3 separate regions of the Homo sapiens genome follow, and all the other regions are linked to region 1. The links come from fine-mapping of genetic effects on gene expression. A gene starts in region 1. Each other region holds a variant in brackets. All regions are shown on one strand. Distances are between the middles of the regions. Region 1 holds the start of MEAK7 (MTOR associated protein MEAK7). Region 2 overlaps MEAK7 (MTOR associated protein MEAK7). Region 3 overlaps COTL1 (coactosin like F-actin binding protein 1).

The links. PIP is the estimated chance that this variant, and not a neighbour inherited with it, causes the effect. A credible set is the group of variants that fine-mapping cannot tell apart.
Region 2: its variant is the best candidate, but not a certain one, in a credible set for the expression of MEAK7 in monocytes after LPS (Fairfax 2014, PIP 0.71).
Region 3: its variant is the best candidate, but not a certain one, in a credible set for the expression of MEAK7 in whole blood (INTERVAL, PIP 0.54).

What each region holds. Positions count from the first base shown.
Region 1 is chr16:84,502,356-84,507,563 of GRCh38, reverse strand. MEAK7 (MTOR associated protein MEAK7) reads left to right here and starts at 2,905. Exons shown (of 8, transcript NM_020947.4): 1 at 2,905-2,963. LOC124903736 (a long non-coding RNA gene) reads right to left here and starts at 2,762. Exons shown (of 2, transcript XR_007065149.1): 1 at 2,629-2,762; 2 at 1-218. RefSeq lists enhancers at 1-317, 2,445-2,564, 1,927-2,874, 2,995-3,495 and silencers at 590-826, 810-929, 3,115-3,164.
Region 2 is chr16:84,470,605-84,476,633 of GRCh38, reverse strand. MEAK7 (MTOR associated protein MEAK7) reads left to right here. Exons shown (of 8, transcript NM_020947.4): 8 at 1-279. Among named protein-coding and RNA genes, the nearest start is that of ATP2C2-AS1, 6.3 kb to the right of the region's middle. The variant TAGTG/G (reference allele first, on the strand shown) is at 2,492.
Region 3 is chr16:84,566,826-84,575,841 of GRCh38, reverse strand. COTL1 (coactosin like F-actin binding protein 1) reads left to right here. Exons shown (of 4, transcript NM_021149.5): 4 at 8,887-9,016. The coding sequence ends at 8,997. Among named protein-coding and RNA genes, the nearest start is that of COTL1, 47 kb to the left of the region's middle. RefSeq lists an enhancer at 2,987-3,519. The variant T/A (reference allele first, on the strand shown) is at 2,090.

The DNA of each region.
Region 1 (5,208 bases):
AGAATAAATTCAATAAAATGAACTCGACTTCCTCTACTGCACAAGTCAGCCGTGGCTTCCGGCTCCATGCTGGCGGCACAGATGGATCGTTGCCCGCCTCACCGAGTGCTGCTGGAGGCTGCTGGTGGTGCCTCCTCAGGGCACGGCTGCTCCTGCGTTTGCTGCTTGGTGGTGGCCTCCTAACAGCCTGGCCCAGAAGGTGGTCCATGCAGCCCAAACTTGGGTTCCAGAGATGGGGAGTCGGGGGCAAGGAGCACATGGGGAAGAGAGAGTGGATGCTCAGCCACAATGGGGGCCCGGTGGTGGCTCAGCCTTTCTGTGGAGGTGTCAAAGCTGGACATGGAAAATTGGGCAGGGATGTCGCTAGCAGAGGCACCGCTGTGGATGGCAGGACCAGCCTGGTCAGGACCTCTGGGAGCCAAGGAGAGTTCAGTGCCCAAAGTCAGCATAAAAAACAGAAGCTGGTGCCCCGGGGGCAGTTGGACAGCCCATGGACATCCCCGGGAGCACCAGCTTGTTGAAATAGCATGATGTATATTTTTAAAAGAGTCTCACTTTATATGCAAAATGTCAAGCAATATAAATCTCTTATTTAAAAAAATTGAGAATACCAGGGGCGGTGGCTCATGCCTGTAATCCCAGCATTTTGGGAGGCCGAGGTGGGTGGATTACCTAAGGTCAGGAGTTCGAGACCAGCCTGGCCAACGTGGTGAAACCCCGTCTCTACTAAAAATATAAAAATTAACTGGGTGTGGTGGCCTATGCCTGTAATCCCAGCTACTCGGGAGGCTGAGGCAGGAGAATTGCTTGAACCTGGGAGGTGGAGGCTGCAGTGAGCCGAGATTGCGCCATTGCACTCCAGCCTGGGCAACAAGAGTGAAACTCCATCAAAAACAGAAACTTTCCAACCAGGCAGGTGGGCAGATTGGAGTGTAGGCTGTTTCTGGAGGGTATGGCCACGAGGTGGCGCCACTTCGGTAGCTCTCAAACGGCGCCGCTCCGCATTTGCTTCTGTGGTTTTCTGGGGGATTTTGTTTCACCGTTTTAATAACAAGATCTCACTTTCCTGCCCAGGCTGGAGTGCAGTGGTGCAATCACGGCTCACTGCAGTCTCGCCCTCTGAGGCTCAAGCGATCCTCCTGCCTCGGCTCCCTGAGTAGCTGGGACTACGGGTGTGCCATACCACGCCCGGCCAAGCTTTTCATTTTTTGTAGAGATGGAGTCTCACTATGTTGCCCAGGCTGACACATCGGCTCCGGTTTGCTCCTGCGGACCCCCCAGTACCTGCACCTGAGAGGCCACCATTGCTGTCCACCCTTGGTGTGCCTCAGCCTACAAAAAACTGTTGCTATGTCAAAAATGCCACTACCTCGGATGGCACTGAAAAAGACACACCTGGTTGATGTGTGCAGGAAGTACAGGGGTGTGAAGGCTGGAAACAGGGTCTAGTCCTTCATGTCTAAAGGCCCGTGTGTCTTGGGCATCAGGAGCCCTGGCTGCAGGTGACAGGCACCTACTCTAAGAAGCCGAGGTGAAGAGCTGGGGCTACTCGTGTCATTGGCATCCACAGCTGGGGGTACCCTGGCTGTAGATGCGTTAGTTTGTGGAGCTGCTTCTCCTGGGACATTGGCCTTGGATCTCAGAGCAATGTCTTGGTGAGGGGCCCTACCTTGTGCACTGTCACCAGCCAGGCCTGCTGCCCTCAGGCAGAAAGCCTTCTATTTTTGTTCCAGCTTAAAGAATAAGAGGTGACCAGCCGGGTGCAGTGGCTAACCCCTACAATTCTAGCACTGTGGGAGGCCGAGGCAGGCAGATCACCTGAGGTCAGGAGTTCGAGACCAACTCAAGCGGACGTTGGCGGGCGAAGTCACGGTTTTCCAGGCTGGAAAACCAGCAGGCCGTGCAGGGGAGAGAACTGGTACCATGGACATGCGGGAGCTGAATCTGCAGGAAGGTGGACCCCAGGGAGGATGCGTGGGGTGGAGAGAGTAGGGAGAAGTCGAGAAACTCCAGGGCAGAAGCCAGAAGGGCCCAGGGAAGACCACCAGGGACAGCGAGCGAGCCAGGGCCAGGAATGGGCGCCGGGGTGCCCAAGAGAGAGGTCTGATGAGAGCACGATCACCAAGCGCCAAATGCTGCCTGCGAGGACCCAAAGCGCACCTCGGATGTAGTGAGCAGGCCCCCGGGACCAGGTTTCGGTGGGTTTGAGAAGGAACGAGCTGAAGAAGTGGGGTGACAGGTTCAGACGTCTTGGAGTGAACGGGAACCGGCTGAAGAGGCGCACGTGGGGTGGAGGGAGTCTGTTTAGCCAGGCTGTGGAGCTGGCGCCTGATGGCTGCCGGGAAGGACCTGGTGCCAGGGAAGAGCGAGGCAGGGGCAGCTGGCAGAGGGAGGCCCGAGGGGAGGCGGACCCGAGGCTCTAGGCCAGGACCAGCAGGCCGGGGAGTCAGGGGAGAGTTGCCTGGGGCCCAGGAGGCTGCACTGCAGAGGCCTCTGCATGGGCTCCACATGGGCCACTCTCCTCCCCCGGGTGTCTTCACCCCCAAGCTCAGCCTCTCCCCCAGGATCTCCCACACCCTGGCTACTCCGCTCCAGCGCCCAGCCCAGACACCCCTTCTCCCCAGGTACCACTGCTGGCCTGGCCTGGCCTGAGTCATTGGCCGCCCTCTCCAGGCGCCTCCTTGGTACGCACGCAGCCGGGCCGGATTCCCGGGCCTGCAGCCGCTCCTCCCGCAGACCGCGGCCCCGCCCCGAGCCGCACCCACCGGGTTCGGCTCACTCCCTGTGAGGCGCGTCACCATTGGCTGACTCCTCTCTTGGGTTCCGCCCCACACCTCCGCTTCCACGATTGGACCAAATGACTGCCCCTCAGCAATGTTGCCTGGCAACAGGGAAGGGGCGGCTCTCGAGAGGAGCCCGTGGGCTGCTGGACCGGACCGGACAGCACCAGGAAGCCCGGCAGGGTAGGTACCTGGGCTGAGGTTCGCAGTGAGCTGACCCAGAGGCGCAGGCCCAGCTGAGTCGGGGGACTGGAGCAGACGGGTCCAGAGTAGGCCTGGGCCCTGCCCCTCCCTGGCCTCCCACGCCTCTTCAGGCCCTCGGGTCGGGGGAGGGAGAGGTGAAGGCTGCGGGGAGGTGAGGGGTGGGGACAGCGGGGCGGGATGGAGGGAGGGTCTCCTGGGGGGGATCAGAATCATCCTGCACCTCCCGCTGTTTATGTGGTCAAGGTAAGAGGGTGGCGAGGTGCTTCCCCCAGGGCCAAGGCCAGCCGTGTTGAAGGGGGATTCAGAGCCTGTGTAGACGCGGAAAGGGAGGGGTGCCTCCACGGAGGAGGCGAGTCTGGGGTAGACACTGAAGTGTGTGTGGAGGGGGTTTTCCTTCTTGTATTCTGACCACACCCATCTGGGCTTTTCCAGGACAGTGAGCTGATAACTGTTCCCAGGCCATGTAGGTGGCCAGCACAGGACAGGTCACCTTCTGGCCCACAGGAACTTCTTGCCCAGGCTCAAGCTGCCCCTTCGCACAAGGGCCTCTGGGCTCTGAGACACAGACAGGACTTCGAAGCCTGTCCAGATGAGGCAGTTGGAATCTCCCCAGCTTGTGGGGGTACGGAGGGACCCTTGTGTGGCTCTAGGGATGCGGGGCCCTTGGAGTAGAGAGTTGGAGCTTGGCAGCCAGGGTGGGAAGCAGCCATGTAACAGCCTGTTGGAGAAGCTCTGAGCAGGAGGTGACTAAGCCATTCCTAGGATACTAGTGGGAACCTTGGGGGCCATCCTGCAGACAATCGGTCCCTGTCCACCCCTCCATCACGGAGGCAGAGCAACCTTCCGTTTCTTCCAAGCAGGGCAGTTTCTCTTGTTCTAAGACAAGATCCCAAGGAGCCATTCTCTGTTGTCTTGGGCCCATTATTCTGTCTCTGACCTCCAGTAAGCAGATCAAATGCCCTGGGTTACCTTATTTAATCTTCTCAACCTTATGTTAAAGAAATTAATTAATGATGCTTATTAAAAGCACATTAATTATTGAAGACCATTGCAATGGGTATAGGGACCACAGCAATGGGATTTTGTAGTAAAGGAGAGAGATTGGGCTCAACTCTGATTATAGCATGGGCAAGTGGGAAGCCAGGAAGCAGGGTGGGGATCAGTGGATGGAAGATGACTGAGGAAACATCAGGGCGCTAGGGTGGATTCTGGGTAAGCTTACCTAGCAGTTTGTTACTGAAGGCAGGCCAGGGTGATCAGACATCACCTAGGGCAAGCTCGTCCAACCCGTGGGCCATATGTGGCCTAAGGCGGCTTTGAATGACATCCAACACAAATTCATAAGCTTTCTTAAAACATGAGATTTTTTTTTTACCATATATGTAGATATATGCACTTATCAGTTATTGTTAGTGGGTTTTATGTGTGGCCCAAGACAGTTCTTCCAGTGTGGCCCAGGGAAACTGAAAGATTGGATATCCCTAACCTAAGCATTAAACCTGGTTAGATAGCAAGTGAACAGATAATGGTGATCAAATATCAAGGATGAGTGGTTTTGTGGGTTTTTTTGTTTGTTTGTTTTTTGTTTTGCTAAAACCAGATTTTACAAAGAGGTACACAGATGGGCCCAGGAGCCTGACTAAAGTCTGGTCAAGCAAAACATCTTGGTCACTTATTATGGGCTGCTGGAACTTTTGTTTGTGTTTTTATGAGACAGAGTCTTGCTCTGTCACCCAGGCTGGAGTGCACTGTTGTGATCTTGGCTCACTGCGACCTCTGCCTCCTGGTTCAAGCGATCTTCCCACCTCAGCCTCCTGAATAGCTGGAACTATAGTCACACGCCACCACACCCGGCTGAGGTTTGTATTTTTGGCAGAGACGAAGTCTCACTATGTTGCCCAGGCTGGTCTCAAACTCCTGGCCTCAAATGATCCTCCCAAAGTTCTGGGATTATAGGCTTGATGATGGAAAGCTTTCAGTCCCTGGCAAGTTTTCTCGGTGTCATGGGACTTTCACAGTACACCTGGGTACATGGGGTGGCCTCTTCTCTGCAAAGCTGTGCATAACACAACCCTACATTGGCCTCGAGACTTCTGTGGGTTCCCTTGTATCAAGTTCCGCTTCCATTTTGTTCCGCTGCCCTACATCCTCAGAAGCCAGGTTTTCTCACCTTCAGCCCTACCGATGTCTGGGACGGACACTTCCTCGTCGTAAGGCCATCCTG
Region 2 (6,029 bases), 31 kb after region 1:
TGGATGCTCTCGGGCCTAGCGTTCCACCGTCTGCAGCTGGGGAACATTTTGTTTGCAGCTAATCATTGTCATGAATATCGTTTATGTGTGCCTTGCTGTGATGGTGTCTGTGGGATAAACTCTTAGAATTGGAATTGTTGGATTGAGAGGTATATGCCTTTTATTTAGATATAGATGAATTAAAAAAACCTCTTGAGCTCAATTTATACTCAATATACCGGGGTGCCTGTTTGCCATGTTTTCAGCAAAACTGTATTAAAATATGTTTTTTTAACCTGATAGACAAAAACTATATTTTGTTGATATAATATTTACATACTTATGGGGTACATGTATTTGCTACATGTGTAGACTGTGTAATGATCAAGTGAGGGTATTTAGGGGTGTCCGTCAACTTGAGTATCCTTTCCACATTCCAAGCATTGCAAGTCTTCCCTTATGTCTACTGTGAAATACACAGTGCATTGTTGCCGACTCTGGTCACCCAGTGCTGCTATAGAACATGAGAACTTATCTCTTCTAACTGTATGTTTGTACCCCCTTGTGGGGCACCCGGTTCTGTTGCTGTTTGGGGTGCAACTAAGTAATCCTCATGGACCTAGGGGGACCGAACAAAGGGGGCGAACATGGGAATAAAAGACAAGAGACAAAAGAGTATGTTTGGAAGAAGGGGTCAGGGGGCACCTTGCCTCTAGTGGACAAGGGCCCTGAACTTTACACAGCCCTCCGTATTTGTTATGCAAAAGACATAGTGAGAAGGGGGGTGGAAGAAGGGGTCAGCTGCTCAGTCCGGAGTAGGCTTGCAAGACTGCATTCCTCAAACAACAGGCTCTAGATGTCGCAGTAGATAACCTTGGTGACAGGGAGTGATGGCCTCCAGCAAACCTGTTGGCAGGAGCAGTCATGAGTTTGCCCACATCCTGCATTCATGATAAACAGTTTGCTGTTTGATCACACAGCCTCCAGTGGAATGCTGAGTTGGTCACGTCCCACGGGCCTTCGGCTCCCTGCACCCACTAGCCGACATCTCTTGCTCCCTCCCTCCCACTCATATATCCTTCCCATCCTCTAGTATCTATCGTTCTTTTCTCTACCTCCATGAGATCCACTTTTTTTTTTTTTTAGCTGACATACATCAGTGAGAACATGCAGAATTTGTCTTTCTGTGTCTGCCTTTTTCACTGAACATAATGACCTCCAGTACCATCCATGTTGTTGCAAATGACATGATTTCACTTTTTATGGCCAAATAATATTCCATCGTGTATATATACTCTTCCTTTTTTAAAAAATTAAGTTCCAGGGTACATGTGCAGGATGTGCAGATTTGTTACATAGGTAAATGTGTGCCATGGTGGTTTGCTGAACCTATCAACCCATCACCTACGTATTAAGCCCAGCATGCGTTAGCTATTTTTCCTAATCCTCTCCCTCCCGCAGCCCTACCACCAACAGGCCCCAGTCTGTGTTTTTCCCCTCCCTGCATCCATGTGTTCTTACTGTTCAGCTTCCACTTATAAGTGAGAACATGCAGTGTTTGGTTTTCTCTTCCTGTGCCAGTTTGCTGAGGGTAATGGCTCCCAGCTCCATCCATGTTCCTGCAAAGGACATGATCTCATTCTTTTTGATGGCTACTTAGTATTCCATGGTATATATGTGCCACATTTTTAAAATCCAGTCTATCACTAATGGGCATTTGGGTTGATACCATGTCTTTGTTATTGTGAATAGCGCTGCCGTGAACATATGTGTGCATGTATCTTTGTAACATATGATTTATATTCCTTTGGGTATGTACCTAGTAATGGGATTGCTGCGTCCAGTGGTATTTCTGATTCTAGATCTTTGAGGAATCGCCACACTGTCTTCCACAATGGTTGAACTAATTTACATTACCACCAACAGTGGAAGAGCGTTCCTGTTTTTTCTTTTTTTTTTTTTTTTTTCTTGAGACGGAGTCTCACTCTGTTGCCCAGGCTGGAGTGCAGTGGCGTGACCTCCGCTCACTGCAAGCTCCACCTCCCCGGTTCACGCCATTCTCCTGCCTCAGCCTCCCGAGTAGCTGGGACTACAGGCGCCCGCCACCACGCCCGGCTAATTTTTTTGTATTTTTAGTAGGGACAGAGTTTCACCGTGTTAGCCAGGATGGTCTCGATCTCCTGACCTTGTGATCCGTCCACCTCAGCCTCCCAAAATGCTGGGATTACAGGCGTGAGCCACTGCGCCCAGCCGCGTTCCTGTTTTTCTACGATCTCATCAGCATCTATTGTTTCTTGACATTTTAATAATTGCCATGCTGACTGGCATGAGAGGGTATATACCGCGTTTTCTTTATCCGTTCATCCATTGGTGGATGTTTAGGTTGTGTCTACATCTTTGCTATTGCGAATAGTGCTGCAGTAAATGTCGGCATGCAGATATCCCTTGGACACACTGATTCTTTTCCTTTGAATAAATACTCAGTAGTGGGATTGCTGGATTGGATGATAGT[TAGTG/G]ATGTTGAGCTCTTTTTTTTTTTTTCTTATAGCTGTTGGCCATTATATGTCTTCTTTTGAGAAATGTCTATTCATGTCCTTTGTCTACTTTTTAATGGGATTGTTTATTTTTAAATTGTTGGGTTCGTGAATTGTTTTCCCTGTTTTCTTCTAGTAGTTTTATAGTTTTGGGTCTTACATTTAAATCTTTAATTCGTCTTCATCTGGTTTTTGTAGATGGTGAGAGGTAGGGTTTCATTCTTCTGCATATGGATATCCAATTATCCCAGCACCATTTATTGAAGACACTGTCCTTACCCCAGTGTATGTTTTTGGCAACTTTGTTGAACATAAGTTGGCTATAGATATGTAGACTTATTTCTGGTTTCTCTATTCTGTTCCATTGGTCCATGTGTCTCTTTTTAAATTTTTTTTAAAGCAATACCATGCTATTTTGGTTACTATAGCCCTGTAATAGATTTTGAAGTGAGGTGGTATGCTGCCTGCAACCTTGTTCTTTTTGCTCAGGATTGCTTAGGCTACTTGGGCTCTCTTTTGGTTCCATATGAACTTTAGGATTTGTTTTTAATTTTGTGAAAAATGACATATTTTGATAGGGATGGCATTGAATCTCTAGATGGCTTTGGGCAGTACGGTCATTTTAATGGTATTAGTTCTGATCCATGAGCATGGGATGTTTTCCATTTGTTTGTGTCCTCTTCAATGTCTTTCATTAGTGCTTTGTAGTTTTCCTTGTATAGATCTTTTACTTCTTGGTTAAATTTATTCCTAGGTTTTTTTTTTTTTTTTTTGTAGTAATTGTCAATGGGGTTATTGTCTTGAATTATTTCTCAGATATTCCATTATCTGTATGTAGAAACACTACTGATTTCTGTATGTTGATTTTGTATCCTGTAACTTTACTGAATTTATGAGATCTAATAGTTTTTTGATGGAGTCTTTCTAGATACAGGATCATATCATCAGCAAAAAGGGACAATTTGAGTTCCTCTTTGCCAGTTGGGATGCTTTTTATTTCTTTCTCTTGCCTGATTGCTCTGGCCAGGACTTCCAATATTATGTTGCATAGGAGTGGTAAAAGTGGGCATCCTTGTCTTGTTCCAGTTCTTAGAGGAAAGGCTTTCAGCTTTTCCCCATTCAGGATGATGTCAGCTGTGGGTTTGTCATATATGGTCTTGATTATGTTGAGGTATGTCCCTTCTGTCTGGTTTGTTGACAGTTTTTTTTCAGGAAGGAATGTCGTGTTTTATCAAATGCTTTTTCTGCATCAGTTTACTAATTGCTTATATCTGATCATATGGTTTTTGTCCTTCATTCTATTAATGTGATGTATCACATTTATTGATTTCTGTATGTTGAACCATCCTTGCATAAGTGGGATAAATCTCACTTTATTGTGGTGTATTATTTTTGTTTTGTTTTGCTTTTTGAGATGGAATATTGCTTTGTCGCTCAGGCTGGAGTGCAGTGGCAGAATGTCGACTCACTGCAACCTCTGCCTGCTATGTTCAAGCAATTCTCCTGCCTCAGCCTCCCAAGTAGTGGGGATTACAGGCACCCACCCCCACACCTGGCTAATATTTGTATTTTTACTAGAGACAGGGTTTCACCATGTTGGCCAGGCTGGTCTCGAACTCCAGGCTTCAAGTGATCCACCCGCCTTGACCTCCCAAAGTGCTGGGATTACAGGCGTGAGCTACCACACCCGGCCTGTTTTCTTTTTTTCTTTTTTTCTTTTTTTTTTTTGATGTGCTGTTGGATTCAGTTTGCTAGTGTTTTGTTGAGGATAGCTTGCTTGGATGCTAAATGGCAGCAGTGGGCCAGGTGGCTGGGCTCTTGGGCCCCTGGGCAGCCAGTGTGGCATAGGAGATGGTAGTGGCAGTGGCAATGGCAGGGTAACCCTCTGGGTCCCTAGTAGTGTACCTGGTAGTGGTGGTGGCTGTGATGAGCTGGGTGGGCCAGTCTCCAGGCCCACAGGTGGCACGTGCATGTAGATGCCAACTAGTGCAGGTAGTGGCAGGGTGGGTGAACCCACCCTCAGCAGTCTGAGAGGAGTGCTCAGGTACCAATAGTGGTGGCCTCGGCTGGGCCGTCCCCAGTCATCTAGACTGTGTGTTCCAGCATAGGGTGTGTGTATTAGTCCGTTCTCATATGCTGCTAATAAAGACATATCTGAGCCTGGATAATTTCTAAAGGAAAGACGTTTAATTGGCTCACAGTTCAGCATGGCTAGGGAGGCCTCAGGAAACTTACAATCATGGCGGAAGGGGAAGCAAACATGTCCTTCTTCACATGATGGTAGGAAGGAGAAGTGCAGAGCAAAGCAGGAGCAAAGCCCCTTATAAAACCATCAGATCGTGTCAGAACTCACTATCATGAAAACAGCATGGAGGTAACTACCCCCATGATTCAATTACCTCCCCCACCCGGCTCCCTCCCATGACACGTGGAGATTATGGGAAGTACAAGATGAGATTTGGGTGGGGTCACAGCCAAGCCATATCAGCATGTGCGGCAAAGCCAGGCTGGGCGGGCTTGTCTGAGGTCCCTCCATGGCATACGCAGGCATTTTCTGTGGTAGCTGGGGAGGGGGCAGTCCCCAGGCCTCTGGTGGAATGCTTGGGTGGGAGGTAACAGCAGTTGTGCTGTGACCTTGCCACTGGGGAGGGTGAGGCTGCTTTCAGTGGCAGCAGCCCATGCCAGTGAGTGGGAACACGCACCCCACTTGCACCTTGGCAGTGGCAGCCCGCACTTTGCTGTGCCTCTGCCCTGGTGCTGCTGAGCCCCAGGCTGGTGTGCAGTCTCTTGTGGGCTGGGCTCCCATATGGTGTCTTGCTCAAAACTGTACTGTTTAAATTTTTCTACCAAGTGACAGTGAACAGCCTCATTTTTCAAAAGCTTTCTGTATCATATCTTTTTCTTGGTTTTCTAGGGTGTCGGTCTTTTTCTTATCGATTTGTAACAGTGCTTTTAAAAAATAAAATAGAAATGAGGTCTCAATATGTTGCCCAAGCTGGTCTTGAACTCCTGAACTCAAGGGATCCTCCTGCCTCAGCCTCCGAAAGTGCTGGGATTACAGGTGCAAGCCACCACACCCGGCCAACAGTGCTTTTTATGAATGAAGTAGCATTTCCCATGTATGGTCAATGTTTTCTACGGTTTATTTGACTTCGTTTGTGGCGTTTTTCTGCCCATAAATTTTACAGTTTCTGTCATATTTCCCAGCATTTCTGCTTAAGGGTCTTTGGATTTGCCGTTTGTTTAGGCAGTCTGTCTCTACTCTGAGTATTAAAAATCATTTTCTTCTACTGTGGTTTCTGTTTTTACCTCTTAAATCTTTTATCTATTCAAAAGGCTTTTATATATATATATGTGTGTGTGTGTGTATATATATATATTTTTATGTGTGTGTATATATATAAATTATATATGTGTGTGTGTGTATGCATATATATATATATATATATATTTTTTTTTTACTTTTTGAGATGGAGTCTCACTCTGTCACCCAGGTGGAGTGCAGTGGTGTGATCT
Region 3 (9,016 bases), 66 kb before region 1:
AAGCTGCTATTGTCCGCATTTGCAGATGAGGAGACTCAGGCTCAGGGAGGTTGAGTCCCCAGGGAGGCTCAGGCCACTGGAGATGCCTGTGGACAAGGGTGCCTGTTTGTATTTGGCCTGGACCTGCTCCCAGCATGCTGGGGTTTAAACCTGGGCAGTTGGGAGCCATTAAAAAATGAAAAGGGGTCAGGTGTGGTGGCTCATGCCTGTGATCCCAGCACTTTGGGAGGCCAAGGGGGGGAGATCACTTGAGGCCAGGAGTTCGAGACCAGTCTGGCCAACATGATGAAACCCTGTCTCTAATAAAAATACAAAAATGAGCCGGCCGTGGTGGTACGTGCCTGTAATCCCAGCTACTTCAGAGGCTGAGGCAGGAGAATTGCTTGAACCTGGAAGTGGAGGTTGTGCTGAGCTGAGATTGCACCACTGCACTCCAGTCTGGGCGACAGAGTGAGACTCCGTCTCAAAAAATGAAAATAAATAAAAATAAAAATGAAAAGGATGGGCTGGGCGTGGTGACTCACCCCTGTAATCCCAGCACTTTGGGAGGCTGAGGCGAGTGGATCACCTGAGGTCCGGAGTTCAAGACCAGCCTGGCCAACATGGTGAAACCCCGTCTCTACTAAAAATACAAAAGTTAGCCAGGTGTGATGGTGGGCGCCTGTAATTCCAGCTACTCGAGAGGCTGAGGCAGGAGAATCGCTTGAACCCGGGAGGTGGAGGTTACAGTGAACTGAGATTGCACCACTGCACTCCAGCCTAGGTGACAAGAACAAAAACTTCATCTCAAAAGATAAATAAATAAATGAGAAAAGAATGATTTAAAACCAAGACAGGAGAACATGCACTTTAAAATCCAGCGTGGCAAATAGATGGCTAGACTCTGTACAGAGCCCCTGTACCTAACCCGTACCCTCTGCTATATTACCCTCCTCAGAAAGGTGGAGACAGGTTTCAATGGATGTTTATTTTGCATCTTTGAGGCATGAATCTATAAGCACTTGAGAAAGGTCACAGGGACAAAACTTGTCTTCATTCATGACCAGCCTGGCCAACATGGTGAAACCCCGTCTCTACTAAAAATACAAAAATTAGCCAGGCGTGGTGGTGGTTGTCTGTAATCCCAGCTACTCAGGAGGTAGAGGCAGGAGAATCACTTGAACCCGGGAGGCAGAGGTTGCAGTGAGCCGATCGCACTATTGCACTCCAGCCTGGGCAACAGAGTGAGAGTCCGTCTCAGAAAAAACAAAAACAAAAAAACTGGTCTTCCACTTGCTGGTTGCATAATTCCAAACCATTCAAGCAGCTTCAGCCGCTTGGAGTGAGACTTCGTCGGATGAGGCCCTTGGAAGAAAATCCTGCTTTGGCAAGAAAAGAGAAGTCCCCCGTCTGGCAGCTATGAGAGAGCGACACCGAGTTCCCAGACAAAACAAAGAGCTTTCTTCAGCCACAGGTGACGGTGCCCCCAGACTGACACATGTTGCTGTGCAGTCTCTGGCAGGTTGTGGCAGCTGCCTCGAGGGCTTGGCAGTCTAGAGCAGCCCCTGGAGGCGGGATGTGGGGAGAAAGTGGGGCTGGCACCAGGAACGCATCCCCAGGGCCCTGCCGGGAAGTTGCTGTGTCCCCTGGGATGAACTGCGTCCCCTCTCTGGGTTGTTGCTGGTCCTCTACATAATGAAGAGGTGAATGGCAGGTCTCAAGGGTGGAGTGCAGTGGTGCGATCATGGCTCACGGCAGCCTCGACCTCCCAGGCTCAAGTGATCTTCCTGCCTCAGCCTCCCAAGTAGCTGGGACAACAGGCGCACACCACCACTGTTGGCTATTTATTACTATTATTATTATTATTATTTGTAGAGAAAGGGTCCCACTGTTCCCCAGGCTAGTCTTGGAACTCCGGGGTTCAAGCGATTCTCCCTTCTCGACCTCCCAAAGTGCTTGGGATTACCGGCGTGAGCCACAGCGCCCCACCTCCCTTCACTATTTTGTTCAGCTGAAACACAATTTACATAGAGTAAAACGCAGAGATCTTCGGAATACTACTCGTTGAGTGTGTGTGTGTGTGTGTGTGTGTGTATGTATATATATATAT[T/A]TTTTTTTTTTTGAGACAGAGTTTCGCTCTTGTCACCCAGGCTGGAGTGCAATGGTGCGATCTAAGCTCACTGCAACTTCCGCCTCCCCGGTTCAAGCGATTCTCCCGCCTCTCACACCCAGCTAATTCTTTGTATTTTTAGTAGAGATGGGGTTTCACCATGTTGGCCAGGCTGGCCTTGAACTGCTGACCTCAGGTGATCCACTCACCTCGGCCTCCCAAAGTGCTGGGCATGAGCCACTGCATCTGGCCCAAGTTTTGTGTATTTTGAATGTTCATGATGCATACCTTTGAAGCCACCACCCAGATCTGGACATGGCGCAGATGTCCACCCCTGTCGGATGGGCTCTAATGCTCTGCGATTCATGATTCTGTTTGCCTGATCACATTATTCTTTCAGACGCTTTCGTGTTCTGTCTAGACCTGCGCTGTTGCTGGCCACGTGTGGCCACTGAGCGCCTGAAAGCGCACCCAGCCATATCAGTGTGTGCCGTATACCCGGAGGGCACACAGCGTTTCTAAGGCTGGGTTCAAAAGAAATGAATGTAAAGGACCTCGTCAGTACCTTTTAGCATTGATTACATTGTGGAAATGACAATATTTTGCATATATTGGATTAGATAAAATACTATTAAAATAAATGGCACTGGTTTCTTTCTTACATTTTTCAATGTGGCTAGTAGCAAATTGAAAATTCCCGGCCAGGCAAAGTGGCTCACGCCTGTAATTCTAGCACTTTGGGAGGCCGAGGTCAGTGGATCACTTCATCTCAGGAGTTTGAGACCAGCCTGGGCAACATGGTAAAACCCCATTATCTACCAAAAAAAAAAAAATTAGTCGGGCATGGTGGTGTGTACCTGTAGTCCCGGCTACTTCGGTGGCTGAGGTGGTAGGATTGCTTGAGCACAGGCGGTGGAGGTTGCAGTGAGCTGAGATTGCACCAGTGCCCTCCAGCCTGGCAGCGTGGGTGACAGAGTGAGACCTGTCTAAGAAAAAAAAGGAAAGAAAGAAAATTCAAAATTCTGGCCTTTGGGAGGCCAAGATGGGTGGATCGCTTGAGCCCAGGAGTTGGAGACCAGCCTGGGCAACATGACGAAACCACGTCTCTACAGAAAAATACAAAAATCAGCTGGACGTGGTGGCTTGTGCCTGTATTTCTAGCTATTAGGAAGGCGGAGGTGGGAGGATCGCTTGAACCTAGGAGGTTGAGCCTGCAGTGAGCCGAGATCGCACCACTGCACGCCAGCTTGGGTGACAGAGTGAGACTGTGTTTCAAAAAAAGAGAAATTAACATTCTGTGTGTGTCCGCATTGCTCTAGGCCCTGGAAGTCTCCTTCTGATGAAGGACTTGCCTCCTGAGTCTTGCCACCTGCCCCTGCCCCCGTGGGTGTTGGTGGCATGTGGGTGCTGGCAAGTGCTGTGTCTTGAGGTGTGTGTGGTGTAGGGGTGGCCACGCTTTGCATGCATATGTTCCCTCTGGTTTCCAGCCTCAGGTGCAAGGCAGACTTCAGCTGCTCCACGCAGGCTCCCTCCAGTTTCAGGCATTGCTCCCAAGTCAGAGTCTGTCTGCCCAGAGCTGTTTTGCTCAGCTTCTGCCTCGTTTTGAAAACATGCAATGAAGCCCACTCCCCAGTGGTGCTTGCAACTCCCTTATCTCATGGGAGCCGCTGGAAGGCGTGGAGGTGGAGAGGTGTGGAGGTTGTTGTCAGTTGGTTTTTAGGCTGAGGCTCAGGTTAGACATTTTGGGGACATTCTGTGGAGTCCACGCCCTGAATGGAAGGTGCTGGCTCACCTTTGTAAGCCTCTGGGGGCTTGGGAGCACCCCGTGTAGGATGGAGGCCTGCTAGTACCCCCTCCATGCGGCCTGACCACCTGGGCCCCTGCAGAGTTGCTGCTGGCCCTATAGAAGGTGGGAGCGGCTCGGTGTCCACTCAGGAGCAGGCTGGGGTCCAGCTCTGGCTGCAAGGGAACTGACCACTGTTGGTCACAGGCCCGTCTCACCGTCTCACCCATGTGTCCACGTGACGTCCAGGCAATGGGCCCGTGCATGACCAGTCTGCCGGTGAGGTGACAGCGGGGAGCCGATCCCAGGGGGATGATTGGATGGAGATGTAGACACTTTATTTGGAAGGTGCTAGGAGTCACTGCCAGGCTCAAAGAACGGGGAAGGGGTGGACAAGACACAGGAGCAGCACGAGGAGGAGACACAAAGAGGGGAGGGAAGCTGATGGGCAGGGGGGAGAGATGAGCGGACCCAGGTGCAAGGGTGGAGAGCAGTGGGCTGGGGCATGACTGCCGCTTAACCAGCCTCATGGTGTCACTCGCCGAGCCTCAGTTTCCCCTTCTGAATTGAGGGGCAAGAGATGACCTCTAAGGACCACCAACCCTGCTGTCTATGAGGCCATGGTGATACTAAGGCCCAGAGGGAGCCCGGACCTCCAGTGTCCTCCGTCCATCCCTTCTCTCTGCTCGGCTTTGCACTGGCGTGGGCTGCATCGAGTCCCAGGCTGTACACCTTGGCAGTCACGCGGCGGGGGCTCTCGTGTGAGGACGGGAGCAGAGCCAAATGCACCAGCTGTCAGCCAGACTGAAGGTGAAGGGAGCCAACAGGCTCATGTCTGAATACAAGGTCTTCAGCCCACCCCTGGAGGCAGTATGTCAGGATTCTTCCGAACAGAGAATCTGGGGTCTGTTCTAAAGGGGCCTAGAGCATGGCCATGGTCACTGTATCTTCAGAAATGTTTAAAGTTTTGTCTTTCTTGGTCATTGGAAGAGGCAAAAAAGGAAAAAAAAAAAAAGCAGGAATGAGGGAAGACTCAATTTTGCACATTCTCTCTGTGTTCCCCTGAGGATAAATTGGAAACGAAATAGGAATACAGGACTTTTAGGTATGAGCCAGTTCAGTGTGTTAAGACACTTGCTTTCTAACCCTTTGCTTTTTGGCAGTAATCGGATTGCTGGACGACTTGTCTTTTAAGACCTCTCTAAGTACTGATGATAAAAACAGCCCTTCAACAGGGAAAATAACCTTCCATTCTATTTTCTACCGAGCAGAGAGGAAAGAACATCAGCTGAGCCAGGAGGGTTATCAAGTTGCAGGATGACCCTGTTTATCTTGTGAGACTCAGTTTGCTTTAAATGTTTTCAGAGATCATATGGTTGCTTTTGTATATACTTTTGTTTGTATAACTTGGAATCATTTTTCTGCTAATCTTTTGATTTTAAATATGTCTCTGGTATGTAGTACAAGGTTTGAGGGTTTTTTTTTTGTAGTTTGAAACATAGCATTTTTAAAGATAATTTTGTTCATTTACATTTATTGTTATGTTTTACTAGATCTGCTGTCTGTTTTGCTTGTTTTTGTTTCATTATAATTTGATTTCCTAAGTACTTGTGGTTTTAGGTTGACCTGTGCCTAGCTCCATGTATCTTTCATTTGAGATTTCTTAGACCTTATCAAACTTATTTTTCTTTTTTTGAGATGGAATCTCGCTCTGTTGCCAGGCTGGAGTGCAGTGGCGCCATCTTGGCTCACTGCCATTTCTGCCTCCCAGGTTCAAGCCATTCTCCTGCCTTAGCCTCCTGAGTAGCTGGGATTACAGGCTCGCGCCACTACACCCAGCTGATTTTTATATTTTTAGTAGATTAGGGTTTTCACCGTGTTGGCCAGGCTGGTCTCGATCTCCTGACCTCATGATCTGCTCTCCTCAGCCTCCCAAAGTGCTGGGATTACAGGCATGAGCCACCATCCATGGCTCTCAAACTTATTTTTCTTAATCTAAATCTTCTAATAGCTAACCGACTGGAACTTCAAGTGTTCTTATTTCTGTAGATTGCCATATATAGCTATCACAAAGCAGAGGAACTTTGGACTTTTCTTCTATAAGCATCTTAAGCTGTTGGCTTCCTCCTTCTGAAAGCTCTCTGCCCCTCCCTCATGCCGTGGGGCTCAGGGTTGAGAAATACATTAATTCTCAATTCTCCTTTCTGGCTCTTACATCCAACTTGTGTTCTTTCATTGCACGGATCACATACACTTAGTAACACACTGTAGTGGGGTGGGAACAGAAAGGATCTCAAGGGTGTTCTGTCATTCTGGGCAAATCTCTCCAAGCCCAGCCCATGAGTCTTATCTTCAAAAAGTAAAATAAAATAAAGTTAATATACTGAGGGCTGAACGAGAACATGAGTGAGGCTGTTCCTGGCACACATCAGCTGCTTGATAAAAATTAACCTCCCGTTCTCCACTTTGTTAGTGTTCTCAGTGGCTTTGCGCGCCAAATGCATTGTCTTTTTATTGTAAAGCTTGACTTCGGGATGCTCCTGGGCTCATCATTCTTGGCAATATGGCGACTTTTTTGTTTTTTATTTTTTAATTGTGGTGGAATTCATTTAACATAAAATGAACCTTTTTATGTTTATTTATTTATTTTGAGACAGATCTCACCCTGTCGCCCAGGCTGGAGTGCAGTGGCGCGATCTTGGCTCACTGCAACGTCCGCCTCCCGGGTTCAAGCGATTCTCCTGCCTCAGCCTCCCCAGTAGCTGGGATTGCAGGCGCCCGCCACCACGCCCGGCTGATTTTTGTAGTTTTAGTAGAGATGGGGTTCCGCCATGTTGGCCAGGCTGGTCTCGAACTCCTGACCTCAGGTGATCTGCCTGCCTCGGCCTCCAAAGTGCTGGGATGACGGGCGTGAGCCACCGCACCTGGCCTGAACCATTTTAAAGTGTACAATTCAGTGGCTTTCAGAACATTCACAGTGTTGTGCAAGCCCTACCTCTGTCTGGTTCCAAAACTTTTTCATCACCCCAAAAGGAGATGGTGGCTCTTTCAAGACGCCAGCTTTGGCATCAACTGGACCTTCTGGTTGTCTGACTTCGGACAAGCATTGTAATTTCCAGCCTTTGTTTCCTCACCTTTAAAATGGAAATAATGTTGATCACCTTACGGGCCTTTTTAAAAAGAACTTGATTGAGGTATGATGTATGTACCTCAAAATCAAGTCATCCTAAGTGTACTTTTTCAGTACTTTTTCGTGAATTTGTGGAGTTGTGCACCCATTACCACAATCCCAATTTTAGAACGTCTCTATCATTTCCTGTTCCCATCTCCAGCTCTGTGTAACCACGAGTCTGCTTTCTGTCTGTATGGGTTTGCCTTTTTTAGACATTTATACCAATGGCAGCTGACAGTACATGGTCTTCATGCCTGGCTTCTTTCACTCAGCATCCTGTTTCCGAGGTTCATCCATGTAGTTGCGTGTGGCAGCGCTTCATTCCTCTCTGTGGCTGAGGAATATTCCATTGTGTGGACGGACCGTGTTTTGATAATCCACTCCTCTGTTGATGGACATAGGGGTTGCTTCCACCTTCCATGATTCATATTTACTACTGTGTGTCATTCTCAGTACTGTGGCACTGTGCTGGTACACATAAGTGCTTAATAATTGTGGTTAGCCGGGCGTGGTGGCTCACGCCTGTAGTGCCAACACCTTGGGAGGCCAAGCTGGGCGGATCACTTAAGGCCAGGAGTTTGAGACCAGCCTGGCCAATGTGGCGAAACCCTGCTTCTACTAAAAATACAAAAAATAGCTGGGTGTGGTGGCAGACGCCTGTAGTTCGAGCTACTTGGGAGGCTGAGACATGAGAATGGCTTGAACCCTGGGGGCAGAGGTTGCTGTGAGCCAAGATTGCGCCACTGCACTCCAGCCTGGGCAACAGGCTTTTCTCTCAAGAAAAAGAAAAATGGTGGTCATTGTTTATGTTATTTCCTTATGGGCTTTTTTTTTTAATGTGGATGATTTTCTTACCTTTAGACGTGTTATTTGTGGTTTTGATAGCTTTTTTTTGTCAAGCTGTCCGTCATCGTTCTGAAATTTTGTTTGTTAAAGTCTTATGATCCACATATGGCAGTAACTGTGTATCATCATGGCTTAAGGGTGTCTGATAAGCCAGGTCACCTGGTTCCCTCATTCATGCCACAAGCGTTTACTGAGTGCATCATGGGTGCCTGCGGGTTCTATGGGTGAAACCTGTGTACTGCAAGAGGAAAGACTGACTGCATCCATTTTGCTGAGCCCTGTAGCCCCACAGCCTGGCGTGGTATTTGTTGAAAGAAGGCAGAGCCTCTACCCTCGTGTAACTCAGTGCGGGTGGAGAGCCCATGGCAGACCCAGGACTGGAGGCTCCTGCGTCATTAGGAACATTGGTGGCTGAAGCTTGCTTGTCCCAGCTGGCGAGAGCCAATTACGCCTGTCTCCTTCCACCTCCACGTATGGTGACATCACTTTGATAGCTTGACGTCAGCCACTGGGGGACTATTTACATCATGGATATGGGCAAAAGACACCAATCTGAGCTTTTGTCCTTTTCTTTTTTTTGGAGTGCCTGCACACCCGTGAGCCTTTCCAACCTCGTAACCTATTATTTTCCTGACGAGATAGTTTTTTACAGATGAGAAAGTTGAGGCACAGAGAATTGAAGGGACTTGGCCAAGGTAACAGCCCAAATTCAAGCCCCAGCTTCCTCGGGCCATCCCCACGGACATGGGAAGACGCAGCATCAGATCTGCCCCACTCCCTCCTCCCAGTCAGGTTTTTTCTGCCAGATGACTCTGCTGTTCAATTTCCATTGACTCTGCTGCTGAATTTCCATTGACTGACTCTGCTGCTGAATTTCCATTTCCATCTCTCATCAGGGTTTTCAGTGCTTTGCTTCCCAGTGTGTTGCCTGAGCCACCCTCACATCCTGTGCCTTCCTTCTTAATAGGAACGCTGTGTTTTCCTTTGTTCTTGCAGAATTTCGCTAAGGAGTTTGTGATCAGTGATCGGAAGGAGCTGGAGGAAGATTTCATCAAGAGCGAGCTGAAGAAGGCGGGGGGAGCCAATTACGACGCCCAGACGGAGTAACCCCAGCCCCCGCCACACC